6 separate regions of the Homo sapiens genome follow, and all the other regions are reported to be linked to region 5. Evidence: microRNA targets listed by miRTarBase, many of them from high-throughput screens and not tested one by one. Region 5 holds a microRNA gene; each other region holds the end of a gene's coding sequence.

What was found. The annotated mature microRNA hsa-miR-124-3p reads UAAGGCACGCGGUGAAUGCCAA and lies in region 5 at 2,093-2,114, shown strand. An mRNA with a match to its seed (bases 2 to 7 or 8) in the 3' UTR can be bound and repressed. Matches are read on the target gene's strand: a 7mer-m8 pairs with bases 2 to 8, a 7mer-A1 pairs with bases 2 to 7 and ends in A, and an 8mer does both.
Region 1: the mRNA of ADAMTS1 is a reported target of hsa-miR-124-3p. The part of its 3' UTR that is shown has no 7-base or 8-base seed match.
Region 2: the mRNA of MALSU1 is a reported target of hsa-miR-124-3p. The part of its 3' UTR that is shown has no 7-base or 8-base seed match.
Region 3: miRTarBase lists MFSD1 as a target of hsa-miR-124-3p. The part of its 3' UTR that is shown has no 7-base or 8-base seed match.
Region 4: miRTarBase lists STX2 as a target of hsa-miR-124-3p. The part of its 3' UTR that is shown has no 7-base or 8-base seed match.
Region 6: miRTarBase lists PLP2 as a target of hsa-miR-124-3p. Seed matches in the 3' UTR shown: 7mer-m8 at 579-585.

What each region holds. Positions count from the first base shown.
Region 1 is chr21:26,833,767-26,837,845 of GRCh38, reverse strand. It overlaps ADAMTS1 (ADAM metallopeptidase with thrombospondin type 1 motif 1), which reads left to right. Exons shown (of 9, transcript NM_006988.5): 9 at 1-2,091. The coding sequence ends at 267. Among named protein-coding and RNA genes, the nearest start is that of ADAMTS1, 9.6 kb to the left of the region's middle.
Region 2 is chr7:23,309,178-23,313,266 of GRCh38, reverse strand. It overlaps MALSU1 (mitochondrial assembly of ribosomal large subunit 1), which reads right to left. Exons shown (of 4, transcript NM_138446.2): 4 at 1,538-3,911. The coding sequence ends at 3,724. IGF2BP3 (insulin like growth factor 2 mRNA binding protein 3) reads left to right here. Exons shown (of 15, transcript NM_006547.3): 14 at 419-532; 15 at 807-3,058. The coding sequence ends at 905. Among named protein-coding and RNA genes, the nearest start is that of MALSU1, 12 kb to the right of the region's middle.
Region 3 is chr3:158,828,320-158,832,408 of GRCh38, reverse strand. MFSD1 (major facilitator superfamily domain containing 1) reads right to left here. Exons shown (of 16, transcript NM_022736.4): 16 at 2,693-3,430. The coding sequence ends at 3,427. Among named protein-coding and RNA genes, the nearest start is that of MFSD1, 28 kb to the right of the region's middle.
Region 4 is chr12:130,792,414-130,796,502 of GRCh38, forward strand. It overlaps STX2 (syntaxin 2), which reads right to left. Exons shown (of 11, transcript NM_194356.4): 10 at 3,582-3,707. The coding sequence ends at 3,627. Among named protein-coding and RNA genes, the nearest start is that of STX2, 45 kb to the right of the region's middle. RefSeq lists an enhancer at 811-1,105.
Region 5 is chr8:64,377,118-64,381,206 of GRCh38, forward strand. It overlaps MIR124-2 (microRNA 124-2), which reads left to right and starts at 2,032; the gene lies at 2,032-2,140. MIR124-2HG (MIR124-2 host gene) reads left to right here. Exons shown (of 3, transcript NR_109792.1): 2 at 942-1,372. RefSeq lists an enhancer at 1-26.
Region 6 is chrX:49,174,236-49,178,324 of GRCh38, forward strand. It overlaps PLP2 (proteolipid protein 2), which reads left to right. Exons shown (of 5, transcript NM_002668.3): 4 at 100-190; 5 at 437-1,000. The coding sequence ends at 459. It overlaps PRICKLE3 (prickle planar cell polarity protein 3), which reads right to left. Exons shown (of 9, transcript NM_006150.5): 6 at 4,037-4,089; 7 at 3,758-3,944; 8 at 2,668-2,967; 9 at 567-2,030. The coding sequence ends at 1,438. Among named protein-coding and RNA genes, the nearest start is that of PLP2, 4.4 kb to the left of the region's middle. RefSeq lists enhancers at 2,265-2,766, 3,285-3,579 and a cis regulatory region at 3,181-3,681.

The DNA of each region.
Region 1 (4,079 bases), not on the chromosome of region 5:
GAATGCCGAGACATTAATGGACAGCCTGCTTCCGAGTGTGCAAAGGAAGTGAAGCCAGCCAGCACCAGACCTTGTGCAGACCATCCCTGCCCCCAGTGGCAGCTGGGGGAGTGGTCATCATGTTCTAAGACCTGTGGGAAGGGTTACAAAAAAAGAAGCTTGAAGTGTCTGTCCCATGATGGAGGGGTGTTATCTCATGAGAGCTGTGATCCTTTAAAGAAACCTAAACATTTCATAGACTTTTGCACAATGGCAGAATGCAGTTAAGTGGTTTAAGTGGTGTTAGCTTTGAGGGCAAGGCAAAGTGAGGAAGGGCTGGTGCAGGGAAAGCAAGAAGGCTGGAGGGATCCAGCGTATCTTGCCAGTAACCAGTGAGGTGTATCAGTAAGGTGGGATTATGGGGGTAGATAGAAAAGGAGTTGAATCATCAGAGTAAACTGCCAGTTGCAAATTTGATAGGATAGTTAGTGAGGATTATTAACCTCTGAGCAGTGATATAGCATAATAAAGCCCCGGGCATTATTATTATTATTTCTTTTGTTACATCTATTACAAGTTTAGAAAAAACAAAGCAATTGTCAAAAAAAGTTAGAACTATTACAACCCCTGTTTCCTGGTACTTATCAAATACTTAGTATCATGGGGGTTGGGAAATGAAAAGTAGGAGAAAAGTGAGATTTTACTAAGACCTGTTTTACTTTACCTCACTAACAATGGGGGGAGAAAGGAGTACAAATAGGATCTTTGACCAGCACTGTTTATGGCTGCTATGGTTTCAGAGAATGTTTATACATTATTTCTACCGAGAATTAAAACTTCAGATTGTTCAACATGAGAGAAAGGCTCAGCAACGTGAAATAACGCAAATGGCTTCCTCTTTCCTTTTTTGGACCATCTCAGTCTTTATTTGTGTAATTCATTTTGAGGAAAAAACAACTCCATGTATTTATTCAAGTGCATTAAAGTCTACAATGGAAAAAAAGCAGTGAAGCATTAGATGCTGGTAAAAGCTAGAGGAGACACAATGAGCTTAGTACCTCCAACTTCCTTTCTTTCCTACCATGTAACCCTGCTTTGGGAATATGGATGTAAAGAAGTAACTTGTGTCTCATGAAAATCAGTACAATCACACAAGGAGGATGAAACGCCGGAACAAAAATGAGGTGTGTAGAACAGGGTCCCACAGGTTTGGGGACATTGAGATCACTTGTCTTGTGGTGGGGAGGCTGCTGAGGGGTAGCAGGTCCATCTCCAGCAGCTGGTCCAACAGTCGTATCCTGGTGAATGTCTGTTCAGCTCTTCTGTGAGAATATGATTTTTTCCATATGTATATAGTAAAATATGTTACTATAAATTACATGTACTTTATAAGTATTGGTTTGGGTGTTCCTTCCAAGAAGGACTATAGTTAGTAATAAATGCCTATAATAACATATTTATTTTTATACATTTATTTCTAATGAAAAAAACTTTTAAATTATATCGCTTTTGTGGAAGTGCATATAAAATAGAGTATTTATACAATATATGTTACTAGAAATAAAAGAACACTTTTGGAATGTGTGTGTCTGTTTTTTGAAGTGGGAATTCATTCCTAGGAAGGAAACCTGAGGCACAAATATTGAATCTGAAGACCGAATTATTTTCTTAAATTATTTGGCAATAAGATTTTGTTCTAGAGGAAGGTGAAGCAAGACGGCTGAATAGAAGATTTTTTTCTAATGAGATGTATTTCTTATATCCTTGGTATACATGATTGCTAAAAAGAAAGAAATTTATGATGTCATTTGTTACTAATGTATCTAATAATATACATCAGTGGTTGGCAAACTTCTTTTGTAAAAAGCCAAATGGTAAATATTTGCAACTTTGTCAATCCTGTCAATAACTATCCTGTCAATACCATCTATGTCACAACTGCTCAACTGTGCTGTTGTAGCACAAAACTAGCCATAAAGAATGAGTAAGTGAATGGACATGGCTGTGTTCTAAAAAAACTACTTGCAAAAACAAATAATGGGTCAGATTTGTTCTGCAGATTCAGTTTGCCAACCCTGGTATATACCATAAATTAAATGGAAAGAGCTTTCAGTTCTGGATGCTTTTTGAATTTGTATCTCTTCCTCAATTATATCCCATAAGTAAAAATACGTGAAAGTATTTAGCTATTGAGTAGAAAACAATGACTCATAAATTACATGTAGTAACGTTAGACATACATGGTGAGTTAAACCCTCTAAATGCTTCACTTGCTCATCAGGAATACCTGAGGGGTTTTGGAGAAAACTTGGAAAGCCCAGGCCTTTCTGCATAGTCTTTTTGTAAATCACTGTCTTTTAAATACTAAGTGGCATATCAATAACTAAAAGTTCAGATTCCTTCCAAAGTAACTACACTTCTCCCAGGAAATAGTATTTACTAGAAGACTCAGATTATGTGGTTAACCACAGACATTTTGAACTCTACGTTTTTCTTCTTTTCCTTGAAAGGAGGAGTTTGTGCCCTCTTCTGTTGCAGTTTGATAAAGACACACCCAAGACTGGGAAAAAAAAGAGGTTTAGTGGACTCACAGTTCCACATGGCTAGGGAGGCCTCACAGTCATGGCGGAAGGCAAGATGGAGCAAGTCATGTCTTGCGTGGATGCGGCTGGCAAAGAGAGAGAGCCTGTGCAGGGGAACTCCTCTTTATAAAGCCATCAGATCTGATGAGACTTATCCACTATCACAACAACAGCACAGAAAAGACCCGCCCCCATGATGCATTTACCTCCCACTGCATCCCACAACACACAGGAATTATGGGAACTACAATTCAAGATGAGATTTGGTGGGGACACAGCCAAACCATATCACAGGTATTACAATATAGCATGCTAGTTTTTATGTATAGGTGATAATTTCTAACTTACTCTCAGTTATTCAAAGTGTTCTTCCCCTGAGCAATTGAACATATCATTCTCAGCAGTCAGGTGTACAGGTGCAGAGAATCAAATTAATTTCTGGTTATTTTTTTTTCCTACCTACTAGACTAAAGGACTGAAAGTTAAAGTCATCTTCTCACATTGTGGGAACTAGTCTTGCTCCTCCAGAACTCATTTAAACGCAGAATTTAATCATTCAATTCAGTGGCCTAACTTGCCACTTGCAACAACAACCTCTCACAATAAATTATTTGTCTACATTAGTGCAGTACAAATCCCCACAGTAAGTGACATGGAGGATATACATGAGAAATGCCCTGACCCTCATTAACTATACATGCCATTTGAGAAAATGAGATATATAAATCTAAAATGATAGCTCATAAGATTAAAAAGTCACTTTTAGATCTTGCCTCATTCACCAGAATTCTTTTCTTTTTAATAGCTTAGATTGATTTGATGTAAGTAATGACACTAAACTTCAGGACACTAAGAGATCAAATCAGCCAAAAAATTTCCTATCATCCTCTCAGATCAAGGCAATGTCAGACAACTTTCTGGTGTTGCCACATTGTTTTTCAGCCCTCTGCTGGTGAAATTTTTTTTTCATCAGTAGGCTGAGTAGTTTAAGATACTCTGCTGGCAGAGATTAGCTCAAAACACACATCCTGGTTTTAGAAGATTGATTAACCGCTTGCTTGAAAGAAGGAGAGATTTTGTGCTCTCTCCTGTTACAGGTATAAATGATGAGCTGTGCCTCTGCTGAAAGAAACTTTCCACAGTGGAAAGATCAGGGACTCAAGGCCTGCAGTCTGGTTTCCTTTGTCCCATACGATGCTCCTTTAATGTGATGCACTCCCACACCCCTAAGAGTAGCGGTCCCTGAGGGCCAGACTACCGTGAATACTGCTGCTCCTCTGGGTCTCATCCCCAGTGAGGTTTCCATACTCCATGCTGGTGCTGGTGAATGTTTGCAAGGGATCCAGTGATGTGATCTGTCTGGTCCCCCAGCAGTGGATATCAGTACCAGCTCAGTTGTGGGTGGGAAGGGAGTGACGTAGACCCTGTGAGATTTCCGTGGTTATAAATAGCCTTAGTGTGTTGGCCTTCTCAAATACGGCTGTGGTGGTCATGTACTGGGCACATGGACAGACTCAA
Region 2 (4,089 bases), not on the chromosome of region 5:
AAAACTTTAGCTTTTTATGGAACAGACACTTAACAGGAATTTTAAAAATTTCATCTACAGCTTGTTACATCTGTAATGGAAAAAAAGCAAACTGTTTCTAGTCTCTAATACATATAACTTGTAAGTGGGTTTCAAAGCTATTTATAATTTTGAAGTGATTGAGTACATACACTTTGGAATCAGACTCAGGATTTGAATCTGGTTTTGCCATTCACTTGTATAACTGGACAAATCAGTTTCTTTGGATGAGCCTTAATCATCTTGAAGTGGGGATAATTCTAATAACCTCATGGAATTACCACTGGATTAAATGAAATTTGTAAAGCCATACATAGCTCACTGTCTGGCGCACAGTAAGTGCTTAGGAAGTAAGGTTTTAAAACTGCCACTTAATGTGATTTATATTTATCTCTTTCAGGTGAATGAACTTCAGAATTTGTCAAGTGCAGAAGTTGTTGTCCCTCGTGACCAGACACCTGATGAGAATGACCAAGTGGTTGTCAAAATAACTGGTCACTTCTATGCTTGCCAGGCAAGTGGGCTCTAAAATAAGCTATTGTATCTTTCTCACGTGGAAGCAATTCTCCCACAGGTGCTCCTACCTGATAGAATTAGTTAAGGTTGTTTGATGCTTAAGACTTTTCATCTCCCTTTTAGCGGGTGATTTCAGAGACTACTAGCAAACTGACTAGTATGTATCTTTAATCATCAAATGGATTTCTATTTGAAATTGTTGAAATGAAGGAGTACAATAACTTTTAGTAGCTTTTGATCAAGTGGAATTTCAAAGCTCTGTCCTTTTCTAGGTTGCCCAGAGAAAAATTCAGGAAATTCTGACTCAGGTAAAGCAGCACCAACAACAGAAGGCTCTGCAAAGTGGACCACCTCAGTCAAGACGGAAGTAAAGGCTCAGGAAACAGCCCACCACAGAGGCAGATGCCAAACCAAAGACAGATTGCTTAACCAACAGATGGGCGCTGACCCCCTATCCAGAATCACATGCACAAGTTTTTACCTAGCCAGTTGTTTCTGAGGACCAGGCAACTTTTGAACTCCTGTCTCTGTGAGAATGTATACTTTATGCTCTCTGAAATGTATGACACCCAGCTTTAAAACAAACAAACAAACAAACAAAAAAAGGGTGGGGGAGGGAGGGAAAGAGAAGAGCTCTGCACTTCCCTTTGTTGTAGTCTCACAGTATAACAGATATTCTAATTCTTCTTAATATTCCCCCATAATGCCAGAAATTGGCTTAATGATGCTTTCACTAAATTCATCAAATAGATTGCTCCTAAATCCAATTGTTAAAATTGGATCAGAATAATTATCACAGGAACTTAAATGTTAAGCCATTAGCATAGAAAAACTGTTCTCAGTTTTATTTTTACCTAACACTAACATGAGTAACCTAAGGGAAGTGCTGAATGGTGTTGGCAGGGGTATTAAACGTGCATTTTTACTCAACTACCTCAGGTATTCAGTAATACAATGAAAAGCAAAATTGTTCCTTTTTTTTGAAAATTTTATATACTTTATAATGATAGAAGTCCAACCGTTTTTTAAAAAATAAATTTAAAATTTAACAGCAATCAGCTAACAGGCAAATTAAGATTTTTACTTCTGGCTGGTGACAGTAAAGCTGGAAAATTAATTTCAGGGTTTTTTGAGGCTTTTGACACAGTTATTAGTTAAATCAAATGTTCAAAAATACGGAGCAGTGCCTAGTATCTGGAGAGCAGCACTACCATTTATTCTTTCATTTATAGTTGGGAAAGTTTTTGACGGTACTAACAAAGTGGTCGCAGGAGATTTTGGAACGGCTGGTTTAAATGGCTTCAGGAGACTTCAGTTTTTTGTTTAGCTACATGATTGAATGCATAATAAATGCTTTGTGCTTCTGACTATCAATACCTAAAGAAAGTGCATCAGTGAAGAGATGCAAGACTTTCAACTGACTGGCAAAAAGCAAGCTTTAGCTTGTCTTATAGGATGCTTAGTTTGCCACTACACTTCAGACCAATGGGACAGTCATAGATGGTGTGACAGTGTTTAAACGCAACAAAAGGCTACATTTCCATGGGGCCAGCACTGTCATGAGCCTCACTAAGCTATTTTGAAGATTTTTAAGCACTGATAAATTAAAAAAAAAAAATTAGACTCCACCTTAAGTAGTAAAGTATAACAGGATTTCTGTATACTGTGCAATCAGTTCTTTGAAAAAAAAGTCAAAAGATAGAGAATACAAGAAAAGTTTTTGGGATATAATTTGAATGACTGTGAAAACATATGACCTTTGATAACGAACTCATTTGCTCACTCCTTGACAGCAAAGCCCAGTACGTACAATTGTGTTGGGTGTGGGTGGTCTCCAAGGCCACGCTGCTCTCTGAATTGATTTTTTGAGTTTTGTTTGTAAGATGATCACAGTCATGTTACACTGATCTAAAGGACATATATATAACCCTTTAAAAAAAAAATCACTGCCTCATTCTTATTTCAAGATGAATTTCTATACAGACTAGATGTTTTTCTGAAGATCAATTAGACATTTTGAAAATGATTTAAAGTGTTTTCCTTAATGTTCTCTGAAAACAAGTTTCTTTTGTAGTTTTAACCAAAAAAGTGCCCTTTTTGTCACTGGATTCTCCTAGCATTCATGATTTTTTTTTCATACAATGAATTAAAATTGCTAAAATCATGGACTGGCTTTCTGGTTGGATTTCAGGTAAGATGTGTTTAAGGCCAGAGCTTTTCTCAGTATTTGATTTTTTTCCCCAATATTTGATTTTTTAAAAATATACACATAGGTGCTGCATTTATATCTGCTGGTTTAAATTCTGTCATATTTCACTTCTAGCCTTTTAGTATGGCAAATCATATTTTACTTTTACTTAAGCATTTGTAATTTGGAGTATCTGGTACTAGCTAAGAAATAATTCTATAATTGAGTTTTGTACTCACCATATATGGATCATTCCTCATGTATAATGTGCCCCAAATGCAGCTTCATTTTCCAGATACCTTGACGCAGAATAAATTTTTTCATCATTTAGGTGCAGCTTGTTGTGTAGTATGTTTTATTTTTGGTTTTCAATTGAATGGGAATGTTCTGAATTTTTTTTCAAACTCTACGCAGATTTCTGTTATACCATGTCCAGCCATGGTACTTAATGTGAACCTTGATAATACTCTTGCATATGAACTAAGAACTAGAGCGTTCAGAGTTTTTCCTAACAAACACTTTGTTTACTTTCTTGTGTTACTGGAGTATTCTGGAAGGGTTACAGAAGTCCTCCTAGAAGAATATTATCACCTCAAAGTATAAAAATAAGACCAGTGGGCTATGTTTTATATTATTTTTTAAAATTTTTGCCATTCCATTAAACAAACAGGGTTAAGATTTACATTTAAGCTAAATTAAATTAATAAAAATCTGAGCAGAGAAGTCAAGCACAGGAGCCAGTGCTAACTCCAGGAAATTCTGATGACATTTCCAGGATAAAGGCAGCGTGTCATAAGTTTTGGGTAGAATGTACTGATTTTTGGTTGCAGGTATAGCTCACTTATCGACAGTCTCTGCATGCCAGTTAGCAGGAGTGCCCATGAGGTACACAAGCCTTGTCCTAAGAGCAGCCTAACCAAGGAGACGGACTTTAGGAGCTGTATTTTCCAATAAGTGACTCAATCCAAATCTGAAATGACTAACGCAGTGCATAAAATATTTTATTCACATTTTAACTCCACTGGAGTCACAGATGAAGTATCATCTTCTATTCCAAGAATGAAGTCTTCAGGTACTGTCTCAGGTGCTATCTGAGCTAACTGGTCATCATAAGAACGTAGGGTCCATAATTTCTCTAATTCATAGATTTCTCTGGTTTCTGGAAGCATCAAATGAATCACCATGCTGCCTGTCAGGGACAGATAAGAGATACAATGAAGGAATAGTTCATTTGCTTTTATTCTTACCTTACAACACACACTGGCTAACTCTAGGAATAAAGCAGTGGTTCTCAAGTGTGGTTCCCAGATTAGCATCACTGTGGACTCCATCCCAGCAAAAATACCACAGAAGTGATGCTATGCCTT
Region 3 (4,089 bases), not on the chromosome of region 5:
GACAAATGCCTACAAGTACATGATAATCTGAAATGAAATGCCCTGTAGGTCCACTGATTTGCATTACACAATAAATCTGCCAAATCTACAAGGGGAAGATCAGTTTTGGGAATACAGTGGATTACTGTAGCAGGCAGCTGCCAGAACCTGGAACTGATAAAGATCCACTGAAGAAAAGATATGTGCACAGGAATGCATGACCATATACACTAATATACTTGAGAGAAATAAATGTTAATAAGTTATACTAAGTTTGGCTGTCTGGCCTACACGATGTCAGGGCTTTTTAGTATTTCTTACAAAAACTCAAAGCTTTCTTCCATGAACTTTTTGGCAGCAAATCACTGCTGAAGGCTTACAACCAAATCCCCACTGGGGCACTCAGGAACACTCAAATGGAAGAGGGCAAAGGATATGAGGCTGCAGTTGAGGCCTTCCAGATATCATGAGCAGCATGCACACAAGTTGGAGCTGTTGTTTGCTACCAGTGAATACTAGGACTAAAAAATAAAGGCATTGTTTCGTTTATCCTTGACACCATTCTTTTCCATTTTGTCTCTGAAAATTCCCTTTACGTGCAATTTTATTCCTGGCAATGCAAATTTGATTTCTAACTCATGGCACTGTTGAACTCCCATCTTCACCCCCAGAGTTCTTTGAAAAACACTACCTGTTCCTTTCCTCCCTTCTGAACATTATCACTTTAAAACAGCAGGACTCAAACTTGCATTGAACTATATTCTTTGTGGGGTTTTTAAAACCTTCATTACACAATAAAGAGCTATTGTGAAAAAAAATCAGAAAACATAAATAAGCCAATAGAAATTCATCATTCAGAGACACTGGTGTACATATCATGCAGATATATTTGTTTTTATAAAAATGGCACCACTATGAATCTTCCGTGTGAAAATGTCATCAACATTATTCCATGTCAATATGTTCTCTAACAAAACCATTTAATGACTACTTAATATTTCACTTTAGGTATGTAATATGATGTACTTAACAAATCCCCTATTATTGTAAATTAGAGTGGCTTTCTATTATACTTTAGGCTATTATAAAATCTGGCAGTGAAGACGCTTTCTTAAAATATATTTACATGTATATTTGTCTGATGGTTTCTTTAGGACAAGTTATTAGAAATGGAATTGCTAAGCCAAAAGGCATTTAGCCCACCACCATCCCCCTTTTAGGTCTTTTTATTCATATTGCCAATTCATCCTCCAAAAGGGTTATTCTAATTTACTCTTTTTATATATCATTCAAAAAAATATTTATTTTGTGCCTACTTTTGCTAGGCACTATCAATATAATCATCGATAACAAAACGGACGCAGTCCCTGCCCTCAAGGAGCTTCCAATTTAAGGAAGAGAGAGACACCCACACCCACATTATCAGAGATTCTTCATTATTTTAAGTTGAGGTAAGCTAAAAAGGAAAACTGCAAGATCACAGCAACTTAGAAGAACCCAATACACCCTGAAGGATCTGGAAGAGCTTCCATGAGGAAGAATGGTTCTGGGCTGGGGGCTAAGGTTTTCTGGTATAAATCAGGTAAAAACAGGTTCTAGAGAGCCTTGGAGAAAACATTCTAAGCAAAGGGAACAGTGTGGACAAAGCCGCTGGGAGGGAAAGGAACACAACCCATTTGAAAACATGTAAGCAGCTCACTGTGGCTGGGGCACAGAGGCGGTGGAGAGACAAGGCAAGAGGCCAGGCCACATGGGCCTTCCAGCAGAAGTAGTGTGGACTTCCTGCACTCTCCCCCACTTGTGAGGTATTCAACACCCATGTGCTGAAACAGTCATATGGCGTCAGAGCCTAAAGAACTAACAACTCAATAATGACACATGTATTAGTCAGTTCTCACACTGCCATAAAGATACTACCTGAGACTGGGTAATTTGTAAATTACAGGGGTTTAACTGACTCACACTTCCATATGGCTGGGAGGCCTCAGGAAACTTAAAATCATGGAAGAAGGCAAAGGCGAAGCAAGGCACATCTTACATGGTGGTAGGAGAGAGAGAGAGAGTGTGAAGGGGAAGTGCCACACTTTTAAACCATGAGATCTCATGAGAATTCCCTCACTATCACAAGAACAGCATAGGAGAAACTGCCCCCATGATCCAGTCACCTCCCACCAGGTCCCTCCCTCAAACACATAGGGATTACAATTCGAGATGAGATTTGGGTAGGGACACAGAGACAAGTCATATCAACACAATAAACTGTAAGTCAGAAAAACAGATGTAAATAAAGCTGCCAAGCTACCTTGCATAAGGAACGTACTTTCAATCTGTTCCCAAACATTTACACTTACAATATCATGCCATGTGCTTTAAACAATATAATCAGCTAAATACATTGGTTTAATATCTTGTCTAAAATATCTGCATTCTTTGACTTTAACAAATAATATGTTAAGGCTGAAAAATATTAAAAAGTATTTAAAGTTTGTCAGAGAAGCTTCATACTCATATTTTACTTAATATAAAAAAAACCACATATGTTACTTAAAGTTCTACTCTGGAGAAAAAGCTACCCCCATAATCTTTCAGTGACTGTAATTGGGCAAGTTCTCTTTATTCTGACTTGGGTTTTCTTCTAGATAATCTTCTGCATGAATAAAAGTTAAAATCAGTGTTTTTGTATTTTTTAAAATCAAAAGAAGACATCAAGTACTCCGTGTGCAGTGTTTTAATTTATCCATGTACATAGGCAATTATCATAATTTGAAGGACACTTTTTACTTATTAGACTATAAGAAAAACTGTACAGAAAGTTTATACTATAAAATTACATCCCTAAGTGATTAGGGTCCTCAGTAACACAGAAATAAGAAATTGAAAAGGGTCATTGCTCGGCAATCCACATAACTACAGAGTAGAGCGCAAGCTATTGTTCGTGATCAGAAAGAGACTTCATAAAAACATCTTCACATATTCCCTAGCATTATGCCCTACTAGTAAAAGGAAGGCCTATGACAATGCCATTGTTTATTTTGTGTAACGCAGCCCTTCTATTTCCCTCAAAAGTTTTTTTTTCCTGCTATAAGATAAAGAAAAGGCTGTATCCCTAAGATATATACCTAATGAAGATTATCTCAACAGAAGCTCCAACGTTTTCCATTTTTCACTGTCTTTCCTGAAGTTCACCTGGATGTTCCACAGCAATTTTCTAACCCTTTCATTGTTGATTAGCCTACTAAAAGTAGAATTCTTTAGCAACACACAATACAAAAGACACAGGCTAAAACAGGCCTCACAAATACACTTTGAAATAGGTATATTTGGATATAAATATAACTTTCCAGTCCATTATTTTTTCTAATGACTAAACTCTAAATTTTTAAAAATGGAAGTTTTCAAACCAACGATGTGTTAAGCCCATTCTCATGACACATTCATTTTAACTTCTCATCTGCAAAACATAACGCAATAAATTACCAAAGAGGAAGAAAAAAACATGAAGCTCACCTGCCTTATAAAATGAAAACCAAGCATTACAAGACATGTAATAGCAAATACTAAGCTACACATTTTTTTTCTGAGCAATTTTTTAACTCTTCTTGATCCTAAAAGTCACAAAAGATCAATGTAGAAAATTTGAAAAATATTCTGAGTTTTTAATTAATATTCTGAGGTTTCAATTAATATGAGGTTATTTCTAGTAGTATATTTTCTATTATACATAAGTAATTGGGTTTAAAACAAGCATGTGACAGCATACTTTTTCTTGAATAAAATTAGGATATTATATTTGCATTTTTATCTTTTGTTTACTTAGCATACGGCATGTTAAGCATCTATGACATTAAAAATCCTTCTAAAACATGGTTTTAACAACATATCACATGGATGTGTCATGATATATTTAACCATTTTCCCTACTCTAAGACATTTATGTTGTTTCCAAACTTTTAACATAATATGACTATCATAAAGATATTCAAAACTCATACTTCTGATTATTTTAAGATGTATTTGTTAAAAGTGAATTTAATATGACCAAAACCACCCCCATCTCAAAAAAACAGACTGTTCTACCAGATTTTAACCTAGTCAAAAGTCACAACAATT
Region 4 (4,089 bases), not on the chromosome of region 5:
ACACATATTTGTAAAACTTTAAACGAATTTCTTGTTGGCTGAAAAATCCTATTTTTTCTTTCTTTTCTGAAAGGAGGTGTCACTCTGTCGCCCAGGCTGGAGAGCAGTGGTGCAGACATGGCTCACTGCAAACACATCCTCCTGGACTCAAGCAATCCTCCCACCTCAGTGTCCCAAGGAGCTAGGATGACAGGCATGCACCACCATGCCCAGCTAATTAAAAAATATGTTTTTAAGAGATGGGGTCTTGCTATGTTGCCCAGACTAGTCTCGAATTCTTGGGCTCAAGCGATCTTCCTGCCTTGGCCTTCCGAAGTGTTGGGATTACAGGCATGAGCCACTGCACCTGGCCTTATCCATTTTTTACATTTAAATATGACAAATGTGTAAGAAATCAACAAGACATTCATTCATTCTTCTACTGCACTGATGGTCTGGAAGCAGGGTGCGACACAGCATTTAACTTTTTTAAAATTAACAAGTATCCTCACACAAGGCAAAGCGAGACCACCTTTGGCTTAATAAATGGAGTCTCCTCCAGGAAGCTTGTCTGAGGGAAGGAAAGGAAGACACAACAGGAGGCACCGCGCTGTAGGACTTTGAGTTCTCTTTTTGAACAGCAGAGATCCATCATTTTAATTACAGTTCCAAATGTACGAGTGCTTTTACCTAAGAAATCCTGTTTGCTGAGCCTGGACAGTTCCAAGACTGCCGGCTCAGTCAGTTATACAGGGTTATCAAGAGGCGCATGGCAGGCCCCGGTGAGCCTCCCAGTGACTCCTCAGGACCGGGGAGAGCTGCCTGCAGGAGGGCCCCTCCCTCAAACTCTGGTTCCCTGTTAACATCACGCACATTTCCTGCAAAGCCCCAGCCACTCTCTCATCCTCTATATGCGCTCCTACGCCCCACTCTCAGCACCTTCCTAGAGAAACCTCTTCTTCCTTTTCTCTGTGATGCCTTCCCTCCCTCCAGAGGGAGGCGCGCGCCCTCCCGCTCAGCAAGTGAGTGTGCTGGCAGCTGGGCCACCTGGAGTCAGCTCCACGCAGCGTGCTCTCATCTCCTGCTGCTGTTGTGCTGCCTGCCACGTGTCTGGGTGCTCGATGTGTGTGCACTTTCCTGCCACATCTGGCTTTCAGGATGACTGTCAACTACATGGAGTCTAGGGTACAGGACTCAGGAGTCATCTAATCTCCTGGTGACAGCGAGAGTGGAAAGGGTACACCCTGGGGAGTCCAGCTCCAGGTCTGGGCCAGGGCCCTCTCACCGAATACCTGTAAGACTCCACCTGTCTCCTTAAAGCAGCCCATCCCACCCATGCTCCGGGGTGACAGGCCTGCACCTGGCACACCCTGCAGGGAGGGGCAGCAGCCAGCCCCAGGAAGGCCAATTGCTAAAGGATGAAAGGCTATGTTAATATTTTAAAAGTGAAGTTAAGGACATTAACCACTGCCTTCCTATGCAAAGATAACTGCTGGTATTCATTTTGGTCTGCTTTTTATGAATGAGGATCCTTCTATGTTCATTCTTATTTACAGACACTAGGGTGAAATGGCCAGCCAGGCCCGGGGCACAGGACTTCAAGCCCCACTCCCCAGGGGTCACACTGAGAGGAGCCTTCTTTTAGTCAACCTTAATGCCAAGTAGTGCCCATGAAAAGTCGCGCATTTCACTGTGTCCGCGCTACAAATTGTAATTTTATCTTTAGTGTAACCACATTAAACTAACCATATTATAGCTACTAGGAAAAAACTCAGAAAGTACATGTTAGAATCATGAAAATATTGAAAAATACTACTATAACAATGAAGAAAAATCACGTACAATATTTTCAGCAAAGCTAAGAAGAAAAAAATAGAACATCTTGCCTAATAAACATCCTACACAAACATCCTGCCTAATAAAAATAGACGGTAAGAGAGTTCTGACTGCCAAATAATGGAATGTTAACACACGCAGCATCCCAGAGCTCCTTACAGAGTAATTTCAGGTGTAATTTTGTGGCTTTTGCATAAATGTCAGAAGACTAACTGGAAAACTTCTCATCTGGTAACTGCATGGTGAGCGTAACAGATGCTCACATTAAGATATCAATCTCTTGTTTTGAGATGGTCTCGCTCTGTCACCCAGGCTGGAGTGCCGTGGTGCGATCTAGACTCACTCTAGCCTCGACCTCCCCAGGCTCAGGTGATCCTCCTGCCTCGGCCTCTGGCGTAGCTGGGACTATAGGCACGTGTGCCACCATGCCCAATTAGTTTTTGGATTTTTTTTTTTCTGTAGAGACAGGGTGTTGCCATGTTGAAGGAATAAATCTTAAAGATTACAAAGCAATAGTGAGACTTAACCATGCTCGTGATTCCTTTCTGCTGTATGTTAACTTTTTAAAAAGCCTTGGGTGACTATCAAGTCTGCAGTCACTTCCATAACCCAAGAATAAATTCATTGGGGATGACTTGCCACACTCTAGACACCTGGGAACAGTTCACAACTGTCTAATACAAGAATTGTGCCAAACATTTACAGAGAAATCACTGCTGTGTCCACCTGTAACACACCGACAGCATTGCCACTTCAGGGCCAGTGCAAGGATGGCTCCCAATGCAGAAGAAAACCAGGGGGAAACCACAAAGCCTGCTGAAGTTTAGGAAAGGTGACACTCACACCTTGATTCTTTAAATAAACTGATACCTTTTATATTCAGAATTCTTTAAGAATTAACAGGCATGCTAACTAAATATAATACGTAATTTTCCTTTTAATATTAAAGGAAATATTTTTAAATAAAATAGATGCTGCCTATAGAAAGGTCGAAGGATGTTCCTTTCAGTCAATGTTTTTCTCAGCGTTCATCCATGCCCTCGATTCCATAGTAAAATGATGCGTTAGTGTATTTTATAAAGTACCTTTCAGTGTTGCAATTACTCTAAAAGCTAAAACTCAGGAGACAAAACATTACAACTGAGAATTAATCTTCACTGAATTTCTATGACATTTAATGAAGGATCCACTACATGTAAAGAGCTAATGGTCTTAGATCAAAAACAAAAGATTCAGGCTGAGTACAGTGGCTCATGTCTATGTATAATCCCAGCACTTTGGGAGGCTGAGGGCCAGGAATTCGAGACCAGCCTGGGCAATACAGAGAGTTCTCGTCTCTACTAAAAATAATTTTTTTAAAAATTAGCCGAGTGTGCTGGTGCACGTCTGTAGTCCCAGCTACTCGGGAGGCTGAGGTAGGAGGACAGTTTTAGCCCAGGAGGTCGAGGCTGCAGTGAGCCATGATCACGCCACTGCATTCCAGCCTGGGTGACACAGCTAGACCCTGTCTCAAAAACACTTTTAAAAACGGGATAAGAAGGTGACCTTGGTTTAAAAATGAGTTACCGCCCAGCCTGTGCTTGTTCTCAGTAAACACAGTGGCTGGGCACTCGAATCAGCACACAGGCAGATGTATCACTAGATGGCATTATCTGTACTGCGTGGCTGGCAAGCTTTTATTAGTTTTATGTCTATTACAATTAAGCAAATACTATTATTGGTTAATTGCAAAAGTTAATAAGTAAATTAGTTGATGAGTTACTTACTCCCACCCTGGCAGAGAGGCATGCACACTGACGTTATCCACACCATCATTTGCCAACTGACAAGCCAATAATTAGAGCGATTATGGCAACCAGAACCACTGACACAGCAATAATTATCCACTTTTTCTGTCAAAGAAAAGCAAGCTGATTATATCATGCATGGTTAATTTCATATTGCCACATTAAAAGACATCCTTCATTTAAAATAAAACGACCTGGCCAGGTGTGGTGGCTCACGCCTGTAATCTCAGCACTTTGGGAGTCCGAGGCGGATGGATCACCTGAGGTCAGGAGTTTGAGACCAGCCTGGCCAACATGGCGAAACCCTGTCTCTACTAAAAATACAAAAACCAGCCGGGCGTGGGTCTGCAATCCCAGCTACTCAGGAGGCTGTGGCAGGAGAATCACTTGAACCCAGGAGGCAGAGGTTGCAGAGAGCCAGGATCGTGTCACTGCACTCCAGCCTGGGCAACAGAGCAAGACTCCATCTCAAAAAAATAAAATAAAA
Region 5 (4,089 bases):
CTTGCCCTCTGCTGTACCTAGGCTCTGCAACTGGGGGCTGCGAGCCTTCTGCGGCTCTTTGGTTTCAAGGACACAGCGAGCTGCTCAGGACTTTGGGAGCCAACATCTGTCTGACTGGTGACGTCAGCAGCCCGTGTAATCCTCTTGTGCTGAAGGCAGATGCCTTATTTGTTTGGCTGGAGCGAGCCATTAATCCCTAATTCTGGATCAGCAAGCGAGGGGGAAAGACCGGACCGCTCCGACCCACCCCCTCCCTACCCCCACCTCCCACCTTAAAGCACCTTATACCACGGAAGGCTCTCAGCCTCTTCTTTCCTCTGCGAACGCGCTGAGCAGCGATTGAAAACGTTTTGGTCCTCTGCAGGTTTGAACAGGGCTAGCAGGTCTCTCTCCGGATTTCTAGGGCTATGGGTATATGTAATTCTTTCTCTCATCGATCGTTTCGATTCTCTTGCCGGTCTTGCAGTTTGCAGGGTCCTAAACGAAGAGGGGTGGAGATTCGAGAGTGCGGGTCTGGCGTGTGGTCCAAGGGAGGGGGTGAGGCTGGGAAAGGGGGTGCAGAATGCGGGAACGGCTGGGACTGCACAGAAGGACCATCTGCGGACTCGTTTTCACTGCTCCAGCTCCCGAAATCGTTTCTCTGGACGCGGCAGTATCCGCAGCGCATGCACCCTCCTCTGGACTTCCGCAGCCCAGACCTGCGCTTACAGTCATCGCGCCACCCCCTCCCCCCGGGCTGCGGGCCCCGCGCTCCGTGGGCTCAGGGTCCCCTCCGCGTCCCCCTGAAGCCTGGGGACGGAGGTCGCGACCGGCCGACTGGGGTCCTGTCCTCTTGTCACCTTGTATCCCTCGCATGCTCCCTCCCGCCTCGTGTCCCTCTCCCCACCCTCCCCCTCCTCTCTCCCGCCTCCCTAACACTGCGCTTTGATTCTGTTTTTCAGGGGCGCATTCTGGGGTCTCTGCGCAAGACCAGCTCTCAGCTCTCTCTCCTTTCCTCGGACTCTGGAGCGGGAGCGGGCCTTTCCCTCGGGTCGACCACGCCGTAGGGGACGCCGTGAAAAGAGCCGTCGCGCCCGCTGCCTCCTGCCCGCTGCGCAGAGGGCTCCGCCCGTAGAGGTCAACTTCCCTCACCCTTTTCTCTCTCCTGCTTGCCCTCCCTCCGCCCGGCCCAGGCGCTTCCAGCCCCAGACTGTGGCCACTGGCTGAGGAGTGCGAGTCGGCTGCGCTGCCCTGAGCCTAATCCCTCTTCCGGGCCCAGACCCGAGGTCCGCGCTCCTGGGCAGTGGGGAAGCTTTAGTGAGCAGGCTTTTCTCTCCGCAGCAAACTTGTAGCCAGACCAGATGGGCCGCCCAGCTCTCTCGGGACTAGGCAGGTGCGGATGAGTTAATTTTTCCGCATTACAAAGAAAGATGACCCAGCCCGCCCTTGGACTCTCTTTTCCCAAAATCTCCCAACCAAACCCGCGGTAACGTTATCAAAGGACACAGAGCCCAGGCATATCTGTGTGTTTATCTTACAGGCACACACGCATGGTTTTCTCTTTTATATGCTAGATTTCATCCCTGACAGCAGAAAATGATTGGCAATGGTTATGACGGAGAACATGCAATAGCGTGGTCCTTAAAAACCTGCCATTCCTTACAAGTGCCTTAGAAAGGATTCAGGGCGAACCAACTGGGTTAATTGCATTCAGTAAAATAACACGATTACAAAATTAGATCTGTACCAGAGGGGTAATTAACTTGGATCCACGCCGTCATTTGAAAACTAGATTTATAGGCTTATGTATGTTTTTAGGCGTGTGCTGTAAATGGCATGGAGATATATGCATATGTATACGCAGGCACACGCACCGTCTACACTTCCACGGAACAGACTAATTAACAGCGGCTCTGGCAGATGTGTCAGAGATGAGCAGAGACAGGAGCTGGGCTTATGAGTTATGACTCTAGGGGTAGAGACTCAGAGCGGAGAGAGGGGGATGGGCAGGGAGAGAAGAGTGGTAATCGCAGTGGGTCTTATACTTTCCGGATCAAGATTAGAGGCTCTGCTCTCCGTGTTCACAGCGGACCTTGATTTAATGTCATACAATTAAGGCACGCGGTGAATGCCAAGAGCGGAGCCTACGGCTGCACTTGAAGGACACCAAAGCATCTCAGGGTCAGAAAGGGGAAAAAGCAATTGCAGGGAATTTAGGGGGTAGTAAAAGGAACCCATCTCTTGCCGCATAAATGCCCCCCACCCCCACCCAGGACTGATTCTGGAAGCAACCTAGTGTTCGAAAGGGAAAGGCTCCTACTTTTCCATTACAGCCGCGGAAATCCGCAGGCAAATCTCCGAGGAGAATTTTAGGGAAGCTTCATTGACAGCTGTCTGGAGAGCAGTAGTTCCCGCCTGTGCAAATATTCCAGAGAGTTAAATCATTTAGAAAGCACTAGTTCTTTCAAGAACAGGTAGTGTGATTGTCTGCAGTCCTGGGCCAAGCTGGGAAAACAAAACAGCAGAGAGAGGTGTAACATTAAATAGCGTCCTGACCACACTGCGCAAGAAACAGCAAATGAAACGTCCAAACTTTGGAAAGATCTGAAGAACACTTGCCGCCCGCATTTCCCCTTGACTTCTCCCTTTTTCTTCCCAATCTCGAGGCGTTCATGCCTGGCTTTAAGACGCCAAGATAACTCTCTTGTTTTGGCATTGTCGCAATGTCCAAATCGGTCAAAGGAGTGGGATAAGGTGAAAGGACCAGGTCAGAAACTTTAGAAGGACTCGGTAAATTAATTTGTTTGGAAGCCAGTGAGGTGGACTATGTTGAGGTAGCAGTTCCGCACCACGACTTTGGAGCCAAAGAAAAACCCAGGCCGAAAAAGCGAGCCTTGATGTCTTTGTTCTGCCTTGGCCTGCAGGGGTTGGGAACAAAGGAGAGGAGCTAAGAGGATGCACCAAAGTAGCCGCGCCCTCCCTGCCTGGCGCTGTCCGCGGTGCTGACCGTGGCCCTTTTCTCTCTCCGTAATCAAACTGGAAAAGCAATAGGACCGTCCCGTCCCTACTCAAAAGAAGAGTAGGATATTAGGTAATTTGAAAAATAACATTTAAAAAGAGAAAAAGGTCACATACAGCAAAACAATATTTTACTGAAATCGTTCCCTCAAGCTGGTTGCTACCCTTGCCTGACACTTTTTGGTCTTCACGTAGGAATGCACACATACATACATTGTAAGTGTATGGGGAAACCATTTCCACTTTATTTAGGCTGAAACCTAAATCGCAGGATTGCAAGAAGGAAATTGAGGAGAATGAAGGCTTTATTATTATCCTTTTCTTTCTTAAATCATCTTCCTTAAAACAGAAACATAAGGTCCTCAGCCGCGGATTTTAGTGCTTACTTGGTCACCAAAGGGACGTGCAATGGACTCAAGTGTGGGCCTCGAGGCTTAACTAGGAAGGGGTGGGTCGGGGACCCACCAGGTGAAACAGGGCAGGAGCCCATGCAGCTTGCCACCTTCGGCCAGGCCTTGCAGCCCGGCAGCCTTAGTAGACGGGTACAGAGGGCTGAGCTCTGCAGACCGCTCTGCTGCGCAGGAGCCTGCTCGGCGCATCCCAGCCGGCGGGAGGCACTGGAGGGCCAGGAGGCCTGAAACCCGCACTGCGGAAAAACCGACCTCAGCCACATCCTCATAGCTCACGCGACGGAAAGAGGCAGGGCGGTTTACTAAATCTTATGCAGTGAAAATTCGCCTTAGAAATCGAAGGTTGGATGAGTCAGTATTGATATATTCAAAAATCTAAATTTCTTAGCATATTTCATCGTTCTTAGATGTTGAAAGTATTAAATGTAAACAATACAAATTTAAATTCCCTAAGTAATGAATCAAAATGGCAAGGGAGAGAGAGAGAGAGAGAGACGGAAAATCAACCAATTCGTAGCCACCCTGGCTGGCTATTTCTCAAAAGAAATTTCTATGCATTTGCTTGAGTTTGTCTATAAATTCACAAACATAAAGGGTGTTAAAATTAGTAACAGACAAAATAATTCAGGTTGGACAATAGAGACAGCAACACCGATTTTGATCCAGGTATAACAATGGGCCA
Region 6 (4,089 bases), not on the chromosome of region 5:
GCGTGGGGCAGGTGCTGGAGGTGGTGGATACAAGAAGATAAGAGACTGAGTAACCTGACCAGCTAATCTAAACCCCCTCACTCCTATCCTGTCCCCCAGGTACTGGGCCTAATCGCTACGTGCCTCTTTGGCTATGATGCCTATGTCACCTTCCCCGTTCGGCAGCCAAGACATACAGCAGCCCCCACTGGTAAGTGTGTGTGTGTGTTGGTTGGGGGTAAGGGGGTTGCTGAGAGGGCAGAGGGAAAAAGGAAAGGGATCTCTTAAAGGCACGAATGCCAACTCTGGTCTCGTATTGGTACTTAGGGCTTTTGTACCAATAGGTACCATAAGCTTCGGTATTCTTGTGTGTAAAATGTTCATGGACTTTGGATCTTGTTTTAAAAAATGGGCATATAGATTCAGCCAATGCTTTCTCTCTTTTCCTCACCTGCAGACCCCGCAGATGGCCCGGTGTAGGCGAACTTCCCTCATTTCTCTCTGCAATCTGCAAATAACTCCTCCATTGAAATAACTCCTCCCCACCCCAACAACAACATTCCCAGCAGACCAACTCCCACCCCCTCTTTGAGGTAAAAGTGCCTTTATTGGGAGACTTTTGTCTTCCAGCCTGCCAATCAACCCTCCTGGGTGTGGCCACCATATGTGTGTGCCTAGGTCCTCCTTCTGCACGATCCAATAGGAGACACCAGTTCTGACTGAACCATGCCCCCACCTAAGTCACAAAATGAGGGAAGTGGGGAGTTAGATTTCAGAGTCCAGGCCCTAGGTTGGGACCCACTCCAAATAATCTCCTCGGTGTGGGTGGTGGTTCTATAGAGGGATAAATGAATAATAAACATTGTTAAAATATACGATAATGAATAAAGTAATCCTTTCATCAAATGTGGGTAAATTTCAAGCATCAGGAGGGGGAAATGGAGTGGAAACAGCTGGGGCAAGGAGGCAAAGAAGCCAGGCCTGTTTTACAACAAATATTAAATTACTTCAATAATACAAACGAGAGGCCCGGTGCGGTGGCTCATGCCTGTAATCCCAGTCCTTTGGGAGGCTGCGGGAGGATTGCTTGAGCCCAGGAGTTCTAGACCAGCCTGGGCAACATGGCAAAACCCCATCTCTACCAAAAAATTAAAAAATTAGCTGGGAACGCTGACACGAGCCTGGAGTCCCAGCTACTTGGGAGGCTGAGGTGGGAGGATAGCTTGAGCCCAAAACTTTTGAGGCTGCAGTGAGCCCTGATCACACCACTGCACTCCAGCCTGGGCAATAGGGTAGACCAAGTCTCTAAAACAGAAACAAAAATAGAAACAAACTGATAAAGGAGGGAGGAAGAGGATTTATGACTTAGGTTGTAGGGGCGGGGCGTGGGGGTGAGGGGCATGGGCCTCATCATCTACTCTGACTGGAGAATGGAGCCCCCTCCAGGACGGCCTGCCTTCAAGCCACGATGCAGTTCTTGTCTCGGGCCTGACGAGGCATCCCTGCGCGAGAGTCCCTGGGGAGCGATAAAGATGGGGAGTTGAAGGTCTCCATTGCAGTGTCCTGAGCAGGCATGGGCCTGCACAAATGCGGGGGCAGAGGGATGCGCTCTCCTAGGAAGAAGCCATCATCCTCTGATGATTCGGAACTGGAACTGGAGGGCGAGCTGGAGCAAGATTCCGAGTCTGACCCTGATCCCGCGTCACATTGATAGTGGCGACGTCTGCTTGGGTGGCGGTTGTGATGGTGATGGTGATTATGATGATGGTGGCGGCGACGGCTGGGGGCCCTGGGTGGGGGACTGCGTGGCCTGCGGCGCTGGGCCGGGGGTGCACTCAGGGTCCGGCGCGGGCCTCCTTCAGACACCAGAGGGTCGCGGAAGCTGACGCGTGGGGTGCTCTGACGACCGAAGGCACTATCATCTGGGCGCAGGTTAGGCTGGCCGGGGGACTCTGGGGGCGGCTCGGGGACACTGCGGAGCCCCAGTTCCGGCATGGAGTGGCGGTGGGGAGCCCCTCTCAGAAAGCGGGAGGGCTCCTCAGGGCCTGTAGCTGTTAAGGGGGAGACAGAGTGACTCCTTGTATCTGCCCTCCCACTGGCCCCCTCCTAAGAGGAGGCCTGCGGAAGGGCCTTCTTTCCTCCACTAAGACTGGGAAAGTGGGGGCAGGGGTCGGAGAATGGCAGGGAGGTGGGAAGTCTGGGAAGTGTGAGGCCTGGAGCAGGCTCTGGGTGTTGAGAGGGTTGGAAGGAAGAACACGGAGCAAGATGGGACTGGTGTGGGGGGCGTGGCCAGGGCACCCGGGGTGGCTTCGGATGGAAGAGGTGTGGCATAGGCTGGAGTAGATTTGGTTTGCAATAAAAGGGGTGGGGCCTGACTGCAGAGGATGAAGGGTGACCGGCTGGAGAAGAGGAAGAGGAACTTGGGGTCAAGCAGAGACAAGTTGAGGTAGGGGACCAGCCCTGTATTGACAGGGTGGAACCAGGGTTCATGAGGCGGGTGTAGTTTGGGATGGAAACCAGGCCTGGACTGGTGTGGGGAAGGAGGATGAGCTGAGAAATGGGCGGGGCCCAGGGATACAGCAGGTGAAGGGCCTGGGCTAGTCAAGAAGGAAGGGCCAGGGCTGAGGCAGGGGCAAGGACATAGGGGTGACTGGGCTGTGGCTGGGTGTGGCTAGAGGGTTAGCTCACCTGGCGCTAACTCTGTGCTGGTGCCTTTGGTGGTGGTCTCTGATGCCCCCTTCACAGCAGAGAAAGAGGCTGTGGAGGCTGCAAGTGGGGCTGTGACAGGGCCGGCACTCCAGCTGCGGCGGCTCGGCCCTGGAGCTGTGGGCTCGGACCCAAGGCTGCAGGCTCGAGAGCAGAAGATTAGGCCTCGGCGTGGCAGGAATGGGCGGCCCAGCAGGGCCCGCCCACAGCGACTACAGCAGAAGCAGCGGTCTGAGGCATGCCAGTGCTGGCCCTCGTAAGCCATCTGGCCTTGGTCCAGGCCTGTGGGGAACGACGAGGGGGAAAAACTGAGGCAGAACCCCCAGGCGTAACCCCACCCCTCGTGAACGAGTCCCTTCTCAAGAAGAGGTGGGGAATCCGAGGCAGGGCACCCCTGGGTGCCTTCCTCCCTCCTCCAGAATGGGGCCCTTTTGGAGAAAGCAGGAAACAGGTTTTGGTTCTCTCCTGGAGACTGGCTGGTGAACCTCTCTCTCACTCCTCCCTTTCTTTCCCAGGGTGCTCTCTCCCAGAGCGGGGTGGGCATTGGACTCTAAGATTCGGGCCAGGCTTAGACATTAGGGGGTGGCTCCAAGTGGAAGGAGAATGGAAAGCTGGGCCTGAAGAGGAGGCCTGGCTGGTGGGGGCAGGGCTTAGCAGGTGGGGAGTGGCCCTGTTGAGAAAGGAGTGGTTCTCAGAGGATAGGGTGTAGCTAGAAGCTAGGCCTGACTTAGGCTGATACAGGAGAGTGGAGGAGAACGGGGCACAGCTTGGGGTGGTAGAGGCTAGGAGTAGGGCGAGCCCTGGGGCTGGAATTAGAGCACCCTCTGGAGGTGGGTGTAGACATGTGGTGGTGGCCTAGCATTGTGTTAGGTGGGGTTTAGAAAGCATGGCATAGTGGGGACATTGGGAGTGGGACTTGCAACCAAGCGTACAGGTCTATAGTGTTGGGGCTGGACAAAGTACAGGGCACAATGGAGGATGGGGCCTGGAGGACAGGAGGAGTCCTGGTGGGGTAGGACTGTGGCCCAGCTGTCCATCCATCCCTCTGTCCAGTCCCACAGCATTCACCCACCGATGTGCTCCCCACAGCCATCACAGTACTCCGCGTGGCGGGCCTCGTAGCAGGCGCAGCAGTGGGGGCGGCTCTGACGCATGACATAGCGCTGCCCTCCTAGTGAAGCTTCACACTCAAAGCAGCAGAAGTGATCCATGTGCCAGTGGCGGCCCTCAGCCTCCGTGCACTCAGGGGAGAAGATGATCTGGAGGGCGCAGGCCATCTGTGGCTGTCAGATGAGCCTGCTCCTGGCCCTGCCCACCCTCAACTCCCACCCCTGGGCAGGGAGGCCCAAACCTCGTCACAGGCTTGGCAGCGTGGACGCAGGCATTCGGCATGGTGACGCCCGC